Linked DNA regions of Homo sapiens. The protein of the gene in region 1 purifies or fractionates together with the protein of each later gene. This does not show direct contact. Each region holds a gene or a part of one and is shown on either strand. Other genes may lie near its edges.

Region 1 (6,856 bases):
TTTTCCTAGTAAAAAAGTTAAAATAGGATTATTTAATTTCACTTCTCTTATTCACCTTCCTCTGTTTCTTAAAAATAAATGACACAGTTTAAAAAAAAGAACAGAAAATATCTCAATATTATTGTGAGGTATACTTTTTATAAGCAATGTAGAGTTCTTTCTAGATAGTTCCTCCCAGACCAGTTGATTTTATTTCCACATAACTTCATGAAGTGTTTCCTTTTAGAAAGCGATACCAAAGCTAGTCAACCACACTGTCAGGAGTTTGTAGAATCTTTATTTACTTCCAATGTGTTGCAATTGTGGCCCAAGTTGAATCAACAACTATGTTGTTTACCAAAATACATCAAATAGAAAACATTGAGCAATGATTTTCTAAAGTATTCTCTTTTTGGAGTTCTCTTGCATGGCTTTCTGAATACTGAAAGCCACTGAACATGTATGCCTCTTGTATATTTGAATATTGTAAACCCGGTTGACTTAACACAACATTCCTTTTTCATTTTTTCCTTTTCATTGAAGTAAAAAAAAACTGGTTTTTGTTTTGTTTTGTTTAAAAAAAAAAAAAAAACCCAGGTGGCTTTTAGAGATTTCTTCCACACTTAAAAAAAAATGAACACTGGAACCTATTGACATAAACTAAAAAATTATGTTTCTGTGAGAAATGTGTTCAAATGGTCCACCCAGAAATCTGAAAAAAAAATTTTTTAATGGCACCAAGGGACCCTACATTAAATGTGCTTGCATTAAGCAACGAATGCTTTTTTGAGAGTCTGACTGAAATAACAATTATAATAATTATTATGCTGCTGATGATATAGTTGAGTTGGTATTTATCGTCGTGGGAGGGTAAGTTCCCTTACTCAATGGATGAAGAAGCTCCTCCTCTGGTTAGTTACATTTGCCCTTGATTCCTGCTTCCCTGAGGGCAGGAGGTAATCCTTGGCAGCCAGACTGTGCTTTGGGTACTGGGACAGCGAGGCATGGAGTTCGTGTGTACTTCCACTACAGATTCACTCAGACAGCCTCCTCAGGATGTAGCTTCCCTCCCTCCTAGCAGAGGTGTACCAACTGCCTCAAATAGGGAAGATCTGCTGGATTTACATTTTGCATTTTTAGTTCTAAGGATAAAAGCATCTCTGATTTTCTTTTGCCTTCCTTCAAAACGTTTAAATTATAATTCACCATCACATCCCTAACTATTCATTAATTATCCCAAGTCCCTCCTAGGTTTATTATTTTGACAATGTTTCCTGACAGTATTAGCAGGTTACAAATTATTGTTAAAGCTATGATTACTTTATTTATGGTCACTGCATAACAATTGCTATCTGGGAAAGATTATATGTTGTGTACAGTTATCATTTGTAGTCACAAGGCTTTAAGGAAAGCTTAGAACATAGAACATATGTATAGGTTCCAAAAGTGTGTTTAAAACTTCAGTATATTTCAGCCACAGTGATCTTTGAGCAGAAGAAAAGGTCTGAGTTTTTTGTTGTTGTTGTTTTTTTTTTTTGAGACGGAGTCTCGCTCTGTCGCCCAGGCTGGAGTGCAGTGGCGTGATCTCAGCTCACTGCAAGCTCCACCTCCCGGGTTCACACCATTCTCCTGCCTCAGCCTCCCAAGTAGCTGGGACTACAGGCGCACGCTGCCACGCCTAGCTAATTTTTTGTATTTTTAGTAGAGACCAGGTTTCACCGTGTTAGCCAGGATGGTCTCGATCTCCTGACCTTGTGATCCGCCGGCCTCGGCCTCCCAAAGTGCTGGGATTACAGGCATGAGCCACCGCGCCCGGCCAGGTATGCGTTTTTAAACACTGTCCCTTAAGACAGTGACATTTGTTATAAGAGTTTTAACACCAGTTCCCATTTCCTACTCTTGAAATATATGAGTTAATGATTTTTTTGTGTGTACTTAAACATTGAAATTTGTTCTAAAATCTGAGCACCCTCTTTGAATATTAAAAATAGAATAGAAAGGTGGTATAACATTTAACTTTGATTTGATGCAGCGTGTAGCCAAGGAGATTTTTAGAGCAGTTAATATATGCCGAGGGATACTAGGATAAATAGTACAGAAGCACAATCTGTGCCCTTGGTCTAACAGTGTAGTGGGACATTTCAGAGCCATTTGTACAACTCTAACTTGATTGTTGATTTTAAAATGTATTTATTGAAGCACACCTCCTAAACATCAAGTCATTGCGAAAGGAGCCATATCATCATTTGAAAAACCAAACCACCGGATCATAAAATGGGGAGTAAATATCTAAAGCAGGCTTATTGCTGCCACCCCTGGATCCAGGGATCAAATATGAATTGTTGGGAATTTCCCTGCTTTTTTATGACCTACAAGGCATTTTTTCCCCTCAGTTTAGTGAATATGTGTGTGTATTCATGTAAACTTACATCTGATAATATTGATAAAGCGGACAGACAAACAGATCAGACCTGCAGTTGACAGAGAATCTGCTGCTTCAGTAAGAAACTCATCTAAGAATCCTGTGCTTTTTGGAGACTTCCCCCTCCAGTTTCCAATTAATCATAAGATTCACAGATAGTGTCAAGAAGGCACAGAGAAAATAAAATATGAATTGAATTGGGACACTAGGGTGCTAAAGGACATTCAAAGAGAGTCCTGGAGGAGTTCAAGGCAAGATCCCAGGTCACACCGAGGTCATTTCTATGGTGAGATGGACCCAGCTCCCATCACTGGGTTCTAATGTGTTACATTAAAAGAAGTAGCAACATTGACCACAGCTTGAAAGACCACCGATTCATTCTGCAAGAGTGAGGAAAATCAAAGAAAGTTTAGATTGACTTGATAAATAAAAGAATAAATGACAAAACTGTCATCAGTTACCTTATTAAAGATGAAGTGGGACACAGAAACTGTTGGTGGACTTGCTCAGCTGATGGCAGCTTTCCTGCTGTGCACGGGGAAGGAAGAGTTGTGCCACCCTGGCCAGGCTGATCCTCTTGAGGTCGAGGTGCCTGGGTTTCCGTAGAGCTCTGAGTACTACATGTGTGAGGAATCCTCAGGTTCTCTCCTTGCTCTGTGAGTCACTCCCATTGTGACACAACGTGATGACTAAATATCTCTTGAATAGCTCATAAAAGCCAAGAAGCTGTAGGTCGCATGTTTCAAAAGGAATCAGCAGTATAAATTTAGCTACTTTTAGAAGAGACTTTAAAATGATCAATAACATTCATTTTATGATTAGTACAATCTCTTGACCAAATTCAGCAGCAGAAATAATATAACAAAGAAATAAATATTTTGTAAACTGCCTGGTGCGTGGTTTTAATAGTTTTCAAATTGTGATTATTCTTCATAATCTCCATTTTTTCCTTCCTGTTAGCATGCCTTGGCTTATTTAACACTCCTTCCCTCCTAAGAGAATAAGTAGGAGAAATCAGTCTCTGAGATTGGTGTTACCATTTTTTTTAAGATGGGCGAGCAAGGAGATAAAAACAACATAATAAAATGAGGTTTTGGAATTACTTATGGGTCTTAATTTATGTTTTAAGGTATGACAAGGAGAGCTTACTAAAGTGGTCTCTGGAACTGAGACCGCTGAGAATAGGAAAGGATGCCTCCTCCCCTCCCAGAGTTTGTCTGTGTCAGAGTTGATCACAGTTGACCTGGCGTATCCTGGGACCACAGTGGAAAGTACTGAGGCCGCAGGCGAGGAGGGGAGGAGATGGTGCTAATCTAGCCTGCCACCCTTCACCTTCACCACTGTAGCCACTCAGGCAGGTACAAATACCACTTTGCTGATTTTTCATTTTCAGTTTCCTCGTATACCAGTTTGTTGCTATACTCTTCTGATTTCCCAGACTCTGTATTCCTCCTTTGAAAATTGCAGTTATTATGGTTCAACTGGAATGAGCACATGAATGAACATATCTGTCTAGGTAGAGTCAGGACACTGCTATCACCCTTTAAAATAAGTAGTGGTCTTTTTTCTTTAAAAGAACAACAAACCCACTTTGGGAGGCCAAAGCGGGCGGATCACTTGAGGTCAGAAGTTTGAGACTAGCCTGGCCAACATCGTGAAACCCCATCTCTACTAAAAATACAAAAAATTAGCCAGGCATGGTGGTGGGCACCTGTAATCCCAGCAACTTGGTAAGCTAAGACAGAATCTCTTGAATCTGGGAGGCCAAGTTGCGTGTGAGCCAAGATCGCGCCATTGCCCTCCAGCCTGGGTAACAGCGTGAGACTCCGTCTCAAAACAAACAAAAACAAACAAACAAACAAACTGAAATTTACTCAGGTTCACATTTAGGGTGCCCCAAATGTGCTAAATATGCTTTTTCCTCTTTAGCATTTCATAAGTATGGCTTAAATATAAAACCTCATAGACAATACATTGACTTAGAGCCACATGAAGTAAGGTATAAATAATTAATACTGAACCCTTCCTGTGAGCCTGTTATTGTCACTAAGAGGAGAAGAGAGCCTCATGCACCTGGGTGGTCATGCAGTGTTAACTGAAAAGGGCAAAGAAAAAGTTATAACAATAGTTAAAATTTTGCTACTTAATGAACTCGCCTAGTGCAGCCGTGTTTCAAAAACTTTCCAAATAGACTTAAAAAAAGTCAAATGTTTAGACTGATTTGCATATTGGAAATTAGAATTCTTGCCATCTATCTGGCTTGTCCCTCAATTCCTGTGGGCCCAACTCATGGGTTCAGTTTCAGTATATGGCACCACAGCCAGAACACCCCCTCTCCTTGTCCAATGGTCCCACATAGGCGATCAGTTAATGAAGTCATGTTAGCAGTGTCTTATCCAGACTGTAACCATATACACATTCAAATTCATATCTCAAGTGCCAAGTTGTCTTTCATTTCACCTCTTTAATATACAACCTTTGAAAGTGCTACTTTGTTCAGAACTCATCCTACATTGACTTCAGATCAAAGATCACATTAAAAAAAAAATCTGGAACCAAATTGCCATTTGAGTTTTTTCCTAGTTCCTTTTTAAAACAAAGGAGTGCACTGTGCATTTTATTTTAATGTTTGTAGGTGGAATGTAAGTATACAGTGGTAAGGCTAGATGCCACCACAGACAACACACTAAAGATAGAGTTATCCTTTTTCTTCTGAATCTGTATGCCTCCCATACTTCTACCCAAGAGTATCTTCTCCACCCCTTTCCAAATACCAAAACATAAGGAGGAAACTCAGATCTGAGGCTGTCTCAGGAGACATACGTTAGGCTTCCTGCAACTACACCATTCTGGGGATGGTCTAAGTCACAGATCATTCTAAGATGAGCTTCAACTGGAGGAAAGCACTTACTCCAGTGTGCAGGCTGTGGTGGGTCCAACTTCTGGAGTATATCCAGTGTCACTCTTGTAAGGCTGACCAGGAGGGTGAGGCTGGTGATAGAGCATGCACAGTGGCTTCTTCCTTCTGGCATAATGATGTAATCCTCTCTCTCAAGTCATTCTCAGTGGAACATGTTTCTCTGAACGACTATAAGCTGCTATGAAGACTTCATGTTTTAAAAGTGTACTTTATATTTTCTTCCTCCTCCCTTTGTCAACAGGGAGTTCTCTTATTTCTACTGTAAAGGGAACCTGTACTTTGGTTCCCTTTTTATACAAACAATGCCTTTGACATTTGAGTAGCTTCTTTGGCTAGGCTTGGTCAAAACCAGGAGCTTTGTTACCCATTTGGCCTTTCATGACTCTCCCAGCTGTAAGATGAAGCAGGGCTAATCTTTTGTTTTTCTCTACTATGCAATCTTTAGATATACAAATAGAGATGGAGTCATGGGAACATTTGATAGATTCTTTGAATAAAGATTTTTCTTATTTACAGAGCACATATCCTTTTAGCTTACCCAACAAGAGGTCCTGCGTTGAAAAGTGAAGTGAGAAGTATTATATGGGGAATTATTGTTCTGGTAGATGGAGCAAGAGAGAAGATAGGTGAGAATGAAAGTAACAAATGAACAGAAACACTGTGGATTTTCAGCAACTTGAAAGAAGGAAAGGTGAAGGCTAAGAAAATGTGTCTGTCACAGAGGGAGGGAGGTGGGTGCTCCTTCTGGTATGACCATCACATGTTCACATGTGAGCATTAAAAATTTTTTTCCTGGCTTAAGAATGATCTTCCTGCCAAGTTTCCTAGTTTCTTTCAATCCCTTTCAAAAAGAAGGCAACTTCTTTTTCCCAGAATCTTAACTGAGATGATAAAATATCAAATGAAATTAAGAGCAGATGCTAGATGCAGCTGATTGTGTAATATGCAAGTACTATCCAGTGGGAAAGAACTCACGGGGATTCATGAAGTGGGGAGGAGTGAGTTAGAGACAACTGTCTTCAGATCCTGTTTGGCTTGTTCTGGACTTTGTTTTGGGTTGTTCTGGACTTCAGACCCTGTTTTGGGTTGTTCTGGGCTTTGGTTCTGTGTGAGGCCTATTTGGCTAAAAAGATCCAAAGATGAATAGAAAGGGGCCTTTCTATTGAGGAATAATTCACTGTTAGCTCATTTATTGCTGAGTAAGGAATCTCATAGACTTTCCCCTCTCCTTGGAGAACCCCTGATTCTTGCTGGCTCCTTGAGACTATTTAAGATTGTGGGGGAAAGGGCGATCTTATCCTTTGCTGATGGATATGTGAATTGCTACAGCCTTTTTTGAAAGCTGTCCAGAAAAAAAATCTGTTAAAATAAAAAGCTACTATTTGAGACAAAAATCCTGCTCCTAGGATTCTATCCTATATAAATGTATATAAGTGTATATGAACAGGATGGGGCAAAAAGAACTGGGAGCAAAGCAAGTGCCCACTAGTAGTGAGATAACTGAATAAATTGTGGTACATATGCACAGTGGAATA
Region 2 (7,329 bases), on another chromosome or scaffold:
AGGGCCCCTGGAACTAGGCTGAACCCTGGTTCCCTGACCAGCTTGTGATTCTCAAGGCCTCCCATGCAATGGCGGGGACCGGGCCTCAGTTGCTCCGTCTGTAGAGTGGGACTAAAGTCCAGCCTCCAGCCACAGTGGTTGCAGGACAGATGGGAAGAACCACACAGCTCTGGGCAGTGACTGTCGGGTCAAAGCAGGTGGGATGGTGGGCGGAGCTTCCTCCATGCCCTGGCCCACACTAGATCCTCTCTCTGGCCTTCTCTCCTTTACCCTTCCTGGCAGCTGGAGGGAGGGACCCACGGAGTTTCTCTTCAACACCCGGATCCCAAGCAGCATTGCACGGGGGTGAGGTAGGGACTCTGGCTGTGTTCTTCCAGAACCTTCACTGTGGGCCCCTTATTCTCTCCACCCTGGATCCCTTTTACCAAATTCTTCCTCCACAGGCCCCTTAGGAATAGATTTCATGGCCCAAACACACTGCAAATATTACTCAGTCATCAGTACCTTTTCATCCCATACCATCAGAGGCACAGGGCGCTGGCCACCAGGAAGCTCTGAGAAAGCCGGTGTGTTTGTTTCTGGATTTGCCGTGACAAAGCTCCACAAACTGAGTGGCTTCAAACACAGACATGCATTGTCTCACGGTTCTGGAGGCCAGAAGGCTGAGATTGAGGCGGGGCGCTCTGAGGGAGGGAGCGCCCCAGGCTTCTCTGCCAGCTTCTGGTGGCCCCTCGGCGTTCAGGGCTGTGGCGGCATCCCTGAGATTCTGCCTCCGTGTTCACACGGGTGCTTCCCTCTGTGTCTCTGTATCTCTGAGTCTGTGTCCAAATTTATCTTTTCTTATAAGGACACCATCTTTGCATTAGAGAACACTTTAACCCAGTATGACCTCATCTTCACTGGATTACATTTGCAAAGACTCTCATTTATTTATTATTTTTTTGAAATGGAGTTTCACTCTTGTTGCCCAGGCTGGGGTGCAATGGCGTGATCTCGGCTCACTGCAACCTCCGTCCCCCCGGGTTTAAGCTGTTCTCCTGCCTCAGCCTCCTGAGTAGCTAGGATTACAGGTGCATGGCACCACGCCCAGCTAATTTTGTAATCTTAGTAGAGACAGGGTTTCTCCATGTTGGTCAAAGTGGTCTGGAACTCCCAACCTCAGGTGATCCGCCCGCCTCAGCCTCCTAAAGTGTTGGGATTACAGGCATGAGCCTGTCACCCAGGCTGGAGTGCGGTGGCACGATCATAGCTCACTGCAGCCTAGATCTCCTAGGATCAAGTGATCCTCCCGCCTTAGCCTCCCAAGTAGCTGGAACTACTGTGGTGGCACAAGCCACCACACCCAGCTGATTAAATTTTTTTGTAGAGAAGGGTCTCACTATGTTGTCCAGGCTGGTCTCAAACTCATGGCCTCAAGCGGTCCTCCTGCCTTGGCCTCCCAAAGTGCTCGGATTTCAGGTATGAGCCACTGCTCCCGGCCCCTTTCTTCAAAGAAGGTGACGTTCACAGGTGCCAGGAGTTAGGACTTGAACATATCTTTTTGGGGAACATAATTCAATCCACTACACCTGAGTTATCATTTCTTTCTTTCTTTTTTTTTTTTTTTTTGAGATGGAGTTCGCTCTGTCACCCAGGCTGGAGTGCAATGGCGCAATCTCGGCTCACTGCACCCTCCACCTCCCGGGTTCAAGCGATTCTCCTGCCTCAGCCTCCCGAGTAGCTGGGATTACAGGCATGTGCCACCATGCCTGGCTAATTTTTGTATTTTTTTGTAGAGACGGGGTTTCACCATTTGCCCAGGCTGGTCTCGAACTCCTGACCTCAGGCGATCTCCCCTGCCTCGGTCTCCCAAAGTGTGGGGATTACAGGCGTGAGCCACTGTGCCTGACCCTAAGTTATCATCTCACATCATGTCTGCATCAGACTTTCTGGCTTTATCAAAAGGAAAGGTACAATTTTGCCAGGCTTCTGGAAACAGGGGAAGGAACTCCTGTACCCCCTGCCTGCATGTGTGTACCCTGGCAGGGCTGCCAGGCTGGTGTGGAGGGCACTGGAGTTGTGGTGGGGGGAAGCAGGAGGTCTGTTTGTGGCCATGGGAGCTGCTGCTAACAGCAGGAACCAGAAACGATCTCAGGCCATGAGGACAATTTCTGCAGCTGGCCAGGGACTGCCCTGTTCATCCCTGGAGTTATGCGACACAGAACTCTGAGGTCAGAGTCAGCCCAGGGCACGGGCCGTGCAGGCGATCCCCTGGCTGTGGAGATGAGGTCACAGGCTGGATGCTGGAGCAGTGTCAGGCTAGGAGTGGGCGTCCTGCCTAAGCCACCTGTTCACAGTGAGCAATCAGCTGGCGCCAAAGAAGAGGACTCACCTGGCCAGGTACCAGCCCACTCCAAGTAGGTAGCCTTGGTCTTAGGGGGTTGGGGGGGGCTTCATTCTGCCTGGAGCTCCCACCATCCTTGGCATTGGAGAGAGAGGAACCTGAGCCAGTATCCCCACCCCACCCCAAATTTCTGGCTCTTCGGCCTTTAGGGATGGAGAATGCGACCTCCCCCCTTCTGCCTGGCTGTTATTTCCCAGCTGGGTGGTGTCTCCAAGTTATCCAGCGGGTGGAAACCGCAGCTCAGCTAGTCCCTCTTGCCCGGTGCCCTATCACAGGAAAACAGGCGAGTCAGGGCAGTCAATGAGCCAAAGTCCAGGCCTCCTGGGAAGACACTGCCCGGAACCGTCCCTGCCTGCAAAGAGCTCTTCCTGCCAGGAACGGCCTGCCTGCCCACAGAGCTGGCCAAGTCGGGCACAGCAGATGGTGGAGCCCGGGTGTGGAAACCTGTTTCTCAGTACACAGGAGGTCCAGGAATAAGGCCCCAGGTGATGAAGCAGAGCCAGGATGCACCCACTGCCCTAGAGTGCGGAGGGAGGCGTGCACCTGGGCCCAAGCACGCACTATGTCCATCCTCCTGGCTCTGGCAGCTCCCATCTCCCCTTTAGCAAAGGAGGAGGCACAGGCATGGGGAGGCCCTGTTAGGAAATTTGGCTGTGTGGCTCCAAAGCCCATGATGGGCCCTCTCTGGCAGGTGCCTGAATTTTTAGGCCCCAGGACACCAGAACAGGGCACCGTCTTCATCTTAGGTCTTGACAAAAGACTCAACCTTCCCCAGAGGGAAGGCCGGATGGGGACTGAATCTACCTGCGGATCCACTTAACACTCGTACCTTTTTAAAAAAAATTTTTTTTATTTTTGAGATGGAGTCTCACTCTGTTGCCCAGGTTGGAGTGCAGTGGCGCAATCTCCACTCACCGCAACCTCCATCTCGCAGGTCCAAGCAATTCTCCTCCCTCAGCTTCCAGAGTAACTGGGATTACAGGCGCCCGCCACCACGCCTGGCTAATTTTTGTATTTTTAGTAGAGACGGGGTTTCACCATTTTGGCCAGGCTGGTCTCGAACTCCTGACCTCAGGTGATCCGCCTGCCTCGGCCTCCCAAAGTGCTGGGATTACAGGCATGAACCACCACCACGCCCTGCCAACACTCGTAGCTTTATCATCCCCTTTTACAGACAAGGACACCGATGCACAGAGTGGTTAAGTAACTTGCCCCAGATCACACAGCTCTAGGTGCCCCAGCCAGGCCCTGAATCCAGATCATGTCCATTGTACAGATAGGCCACTCGGTGCCTTGCTGGGCGCTGCGGGCTGTGGGCTGTTGTGTGTGCAATGGGGAGGCCAAGACCAGCCCAGCCCACCAGGCCGGACCCTCGAGTCAAATAAGAAACATGCAAAGATCCAAACGAAGAGCGAATTCATGGAATGAAGCGCAGCTGCATATGCAGCCAGGGTTCCAGCCCCCACGGCCACGTGGAAAGACTGGCTGGCCCGGGTCTTACAGCGCTGAGGGTCGGTCTTCCAGCGCCTTAGGGGCCAGGCGTCCCTCCAAGAAGGCGAGGAAGTAGGCGGAGCTTCTGCCGGCGGACTAATGACGGTACAGAGGCGGGGCCGAAGGGCGGGGACACGTGGAGGGGCGGGGCCATTGGGTAATGGGCGGGGATGCGAGTGGAGGGGCAAAACCATCAGGTAAAAGGACCAATAGAGGTTCAGGAGCGAGTGGGCGGGGCACGCTGTGGGGCGGGATCGGCGGGGGATAGACCAATGGTGGGTAAGAGGCGGGACAGAGGGCGGGGCGCGCGGGGGCTGGGCTGGCGGGAGGCGGGCCAATGGAGGCTCGGGGGCGGGGCCGGCGGGCGGACGGGCGGGGGTGCGGAGGGGGCGGCGGCGGCGGCGGCGAACAAAGAGGCGGCGGGCGCGGGCGGCCGAGCGGAGCCGAGCGCAGCCGAGCCGGGCCGAGCCGGGCCGGGCCGGGCCCAGGAGCGCGCGGATGATGCGGGCGGCCAGGCGGGGGTCGACGGGTCCCTGAAGCCCGCGCCCCGGGCCAGCAAGGGAGCCCCGCGCAGGCCGCGCGCATCCGGAGGCGGCCGGGCCCCGCCATGGCCGGGGTCAGCTACGCGGCGCCCTGGTGGGTGAGCCTCCTGCACCGGCTGCCCCACTTCGACCTGAGCTGGGAGGCCACTAGCAGCCAGTTCCGGCCCGAGGACACCGACTACCAGCAGGTGACATGGGCCTCTCGGGGTCGCGGGGTCAGGGACCCCAGGTCACGGCCCCCTCCTCTCCCAGGGTCACGGCCCCCATCCCCGAGGGCCTAAAGACCCCTCATCCCCCCCTCCAGGGTCACGGCCACCTCCTCCTCGCAGGTACCGGCCTCCTTCCTTCTCGAGGGTCCCTTCTGAGTCCTAGGACCCTTTCTTCCAGGGTCATGGCCTCCTCCTCAAAGGTCTAAATACCCTCCAACCCCCAGTGAGGGTCCACGGCCCCCCTCCCGATTCTGGCCTTCCCTTCTGGTGTCACTAAGGCCCCTGGGTTTCATGGAGCTGCCTCTCCCCACTCCGTGAGCCCCCTTGGCCAGTGGAGGGCCTCTCCACCATCACTGTTGGCGGCCTGGTGCTGTGTCCCAGCAGAGACCCCTCCCCAGATGACCCCCAGGCTCTGAGATCAGAGCGGGTGCCTGAGCACATTGGGTGCAGGCAGGCAGAGACTCCTCGCCCACTCACCCCCGACTGGGGAATCCCACTGCCAGGCTTCCAGTGGGTGAATGGCCTGGGCCGCCGCCAGCCCTCTGTGGCCGGTAATGACCCCCTGCTTGGCGGTCAGGCTGTGGGATGTACACAGGGTGCCGTGTGTGGCCGTGGGAGACCAGGCTGCCTGTAGCCCCCGGGGGAGGGAGGCCCGGCGGCCAGGAAGCACCGTGGGCCTCAGGCAGGGAGGCTGGAAGCGGCTGAGCCCAGGCAGACCTGGGGGGCGGCTGGGGGCCCTTTGCAGCCCTCTCCCAGGGGAGCCCTTAGCCTGGCATCATGCCAGGCCCCAGCACCACCCCCATCGCCAAGCTACTGTCATTTGAGTGCGGGGCAGGGGACCAAGCTGTGGGCATTTCCTTCCTGCCTAGAGATCCGGATTCCAGAAGCCCCGTGACCAGGGTCCCTGGTCACCCGGAGTTTCTCTCTGGACGGATCATGGCAGAGCCCCATGGTGGGGTGGGGATGGCTTTGCTTATCAAAATGGCTTGGGAATCCGGTATTCCGCGGGCAGCCTAGCACCTGGACTCTTCAGAACTGCGTTGTCTGTGGCCTCCCGCATCCAGAGGAGGGAGGCGGAAGTGGAGGAGCAGGGCACCTGGGAGCCCACTGCTCCCAGCCTCGCGCTCACTTGCACCCAGGCCCCCCAGCCGAGCCGATGACGTTTCCTAACAGATGAGGAAGGGGGCGAGGGATCGGCCCAGGCACGCCCAGACACAGCAGGGAGGAGGGAGGCGGAAGGATTGGTATAAAATCTCACGCCTGCGTTCTAGAAGCCCAGCCCTGGGGGACCGTTCAGTGTGGGGGCAATGCACATTCAGGAACTTCTGGAACTTATTCCATGCTGATGGCTTTGCCACTTGTCCCTGGAGGACTCTGTTGAAGCTGCAAGGAGGGTGTGCTTCACTTTGGAAAGTTCTCTGCCCTGAGGGTTTGGCCCATTTGTCAGTTCTTAAGCTCCGGGGCAGCCCTGGGGCGTGGGGGGCGGCTGTTTCCTGCTGCCCCTTGGGCTGCCACCTGCCCGAGCTGCCAGCCACAGTTGGACTTCCTTCCAGCCCTCCGGGGTGCCTGCATTCCCACATTCGAGACAGGCAGTGAGAGGGAGTGAGGGGCGATGATGTCTGCAGCCCACAAGAGCCTCCGGGCAGTAGCCAGGCCCCTCTGCTCAGCCTGACCTGCCTGGCCTCCAGCAGGGTGCTATGGCCCTGGGAGGCCCTGGCTTCTGCCCCCTTTCCTCCCCTGCCCTGCGCTCTGCTCTGCTGTGGGAGGGCTCTGACTCACTCTCTCTCCTGCCTCATCTCCACAGAGCAGAATTAGCCACTGAATAATTCACGATGTGGAAACCGGCCTGCCTCCATCCCCCGCCGCCTCCACTCCCGGCTCTTGGCGAGGGGCTGTGGCGTGAGCTGGTCCTGGCGTGCGTCCTGCCCCTGCCCTTCCAATACTGGTGCTTTTCGGCAACTGCTTGGTGTCTCTGAGCCTTCATTGCCTCATCCTGAATCTGGGCTGGCCGTGCCTCCTGTGTAGGGTCACCCCTGGGAGGCAAGGGCCAGGAGCCCCCTTCCTGGGAGAATGGGCAGTGGGTGGGCCTGGGCTGTGGCAGGCGCCCCTTCCTGCCTCCCCTGGTGAGGAGTTGCTGGCTGTAGTGGGGGGTGGACCCCTCACCCATCCTGACTGAGGGCTCCCTCTTAGCTGTCTCTGTGCTGCCCCAACCTGGGCTGTGCCCTGCTGGGGAGTGGGCATCTGCCCCGTGGTTATGGGGGCGGGGGGATGGAGGGGAGGTGGGGCCTGGGGTTGGGAGTTGGGGGTGTGGCACGGGGGACTGGCCTTTGTCCTTTGCTATTTCTGGCCCCCGTGGTCTGCTGTTGGGAACCCTGGTGAAACCCCCGGAGGGACCAGGGCCAGGTCCTGTTTCAAGGCCCTGCGTGGGACTGCCTGTCACTAGTCACTTTTCCCACAGCCCCAGGAGGTGGGGAGAGTTGTCCATTGTACAGATTAGCAAACTGAGGCTCCGAATCACATAGTGAGTAAGTGGTGGGGCCGCAGCCCTGCTGTAGGTCCCTCGTCCGGCCCCCCGAGGAGCCGGGGTCAGCCTGGAGTCGCAGGCTCCCCGGATTCCCCCACGGCTGCCTTGCCGCTGGGGGTGTGACCGTGGGATTAGAAGCTGATGGGGGCTGAGGGAGCTGTGAGAGGGCAGGGGGTGGAG

Evidence for each region.
Region 2: the proteins of DHRS9 (region 1) and TTYH3 purify together in Homo sapiens (affinity purification with mass spectrometry; 3 studies listed by BioGRID and IntAct, with this or other methods). This does not show direct contact.

The regions. Positions count from the first base shown.
Region 1 is NC_000002.12:169,065,724-169,072,579, reverse strand, and holds the start of DHRS9 (dehydrogenase/reductase SDR family member 9), read right to left. Parts: upstream 3,018-6,856; 5' UTR 2,863-3,017; intron 6-2,862; exon of another isoform or gene 1-5. UniProt on the Homo sapiens protein: 3-alpha-hydroxysteroid dehydrogenase that converts 3-alpha-tetrahydroprogesterone (allopregnanolone) to dihydroxyprogesterone and 3-alpha-androstanediol to dihydroxyprogesterone. Also plays a role in the biosynthesis of retinoic acid from retinaldehyde.
Region 2 is NC_000007.14:2,627,675-2,635,003, forward strand, and holds the start of TTYH3 (protein tweety homolog 3), read left to right. Parts: upstream 1-4,311; 5' UTR 4,312-4,481; coding exon 4,482-4,604; intron 4,605-7,329. UniProt on the Homo sapiens protein: Calcium-independent, swelling-dependent volume-regulated anion channel (VRAC-swell) which plays a pivotal role in the process of regulatory volume decrease (RVD) in the brain through the efflux of anions like chloride and organic osmolytes like glutamate.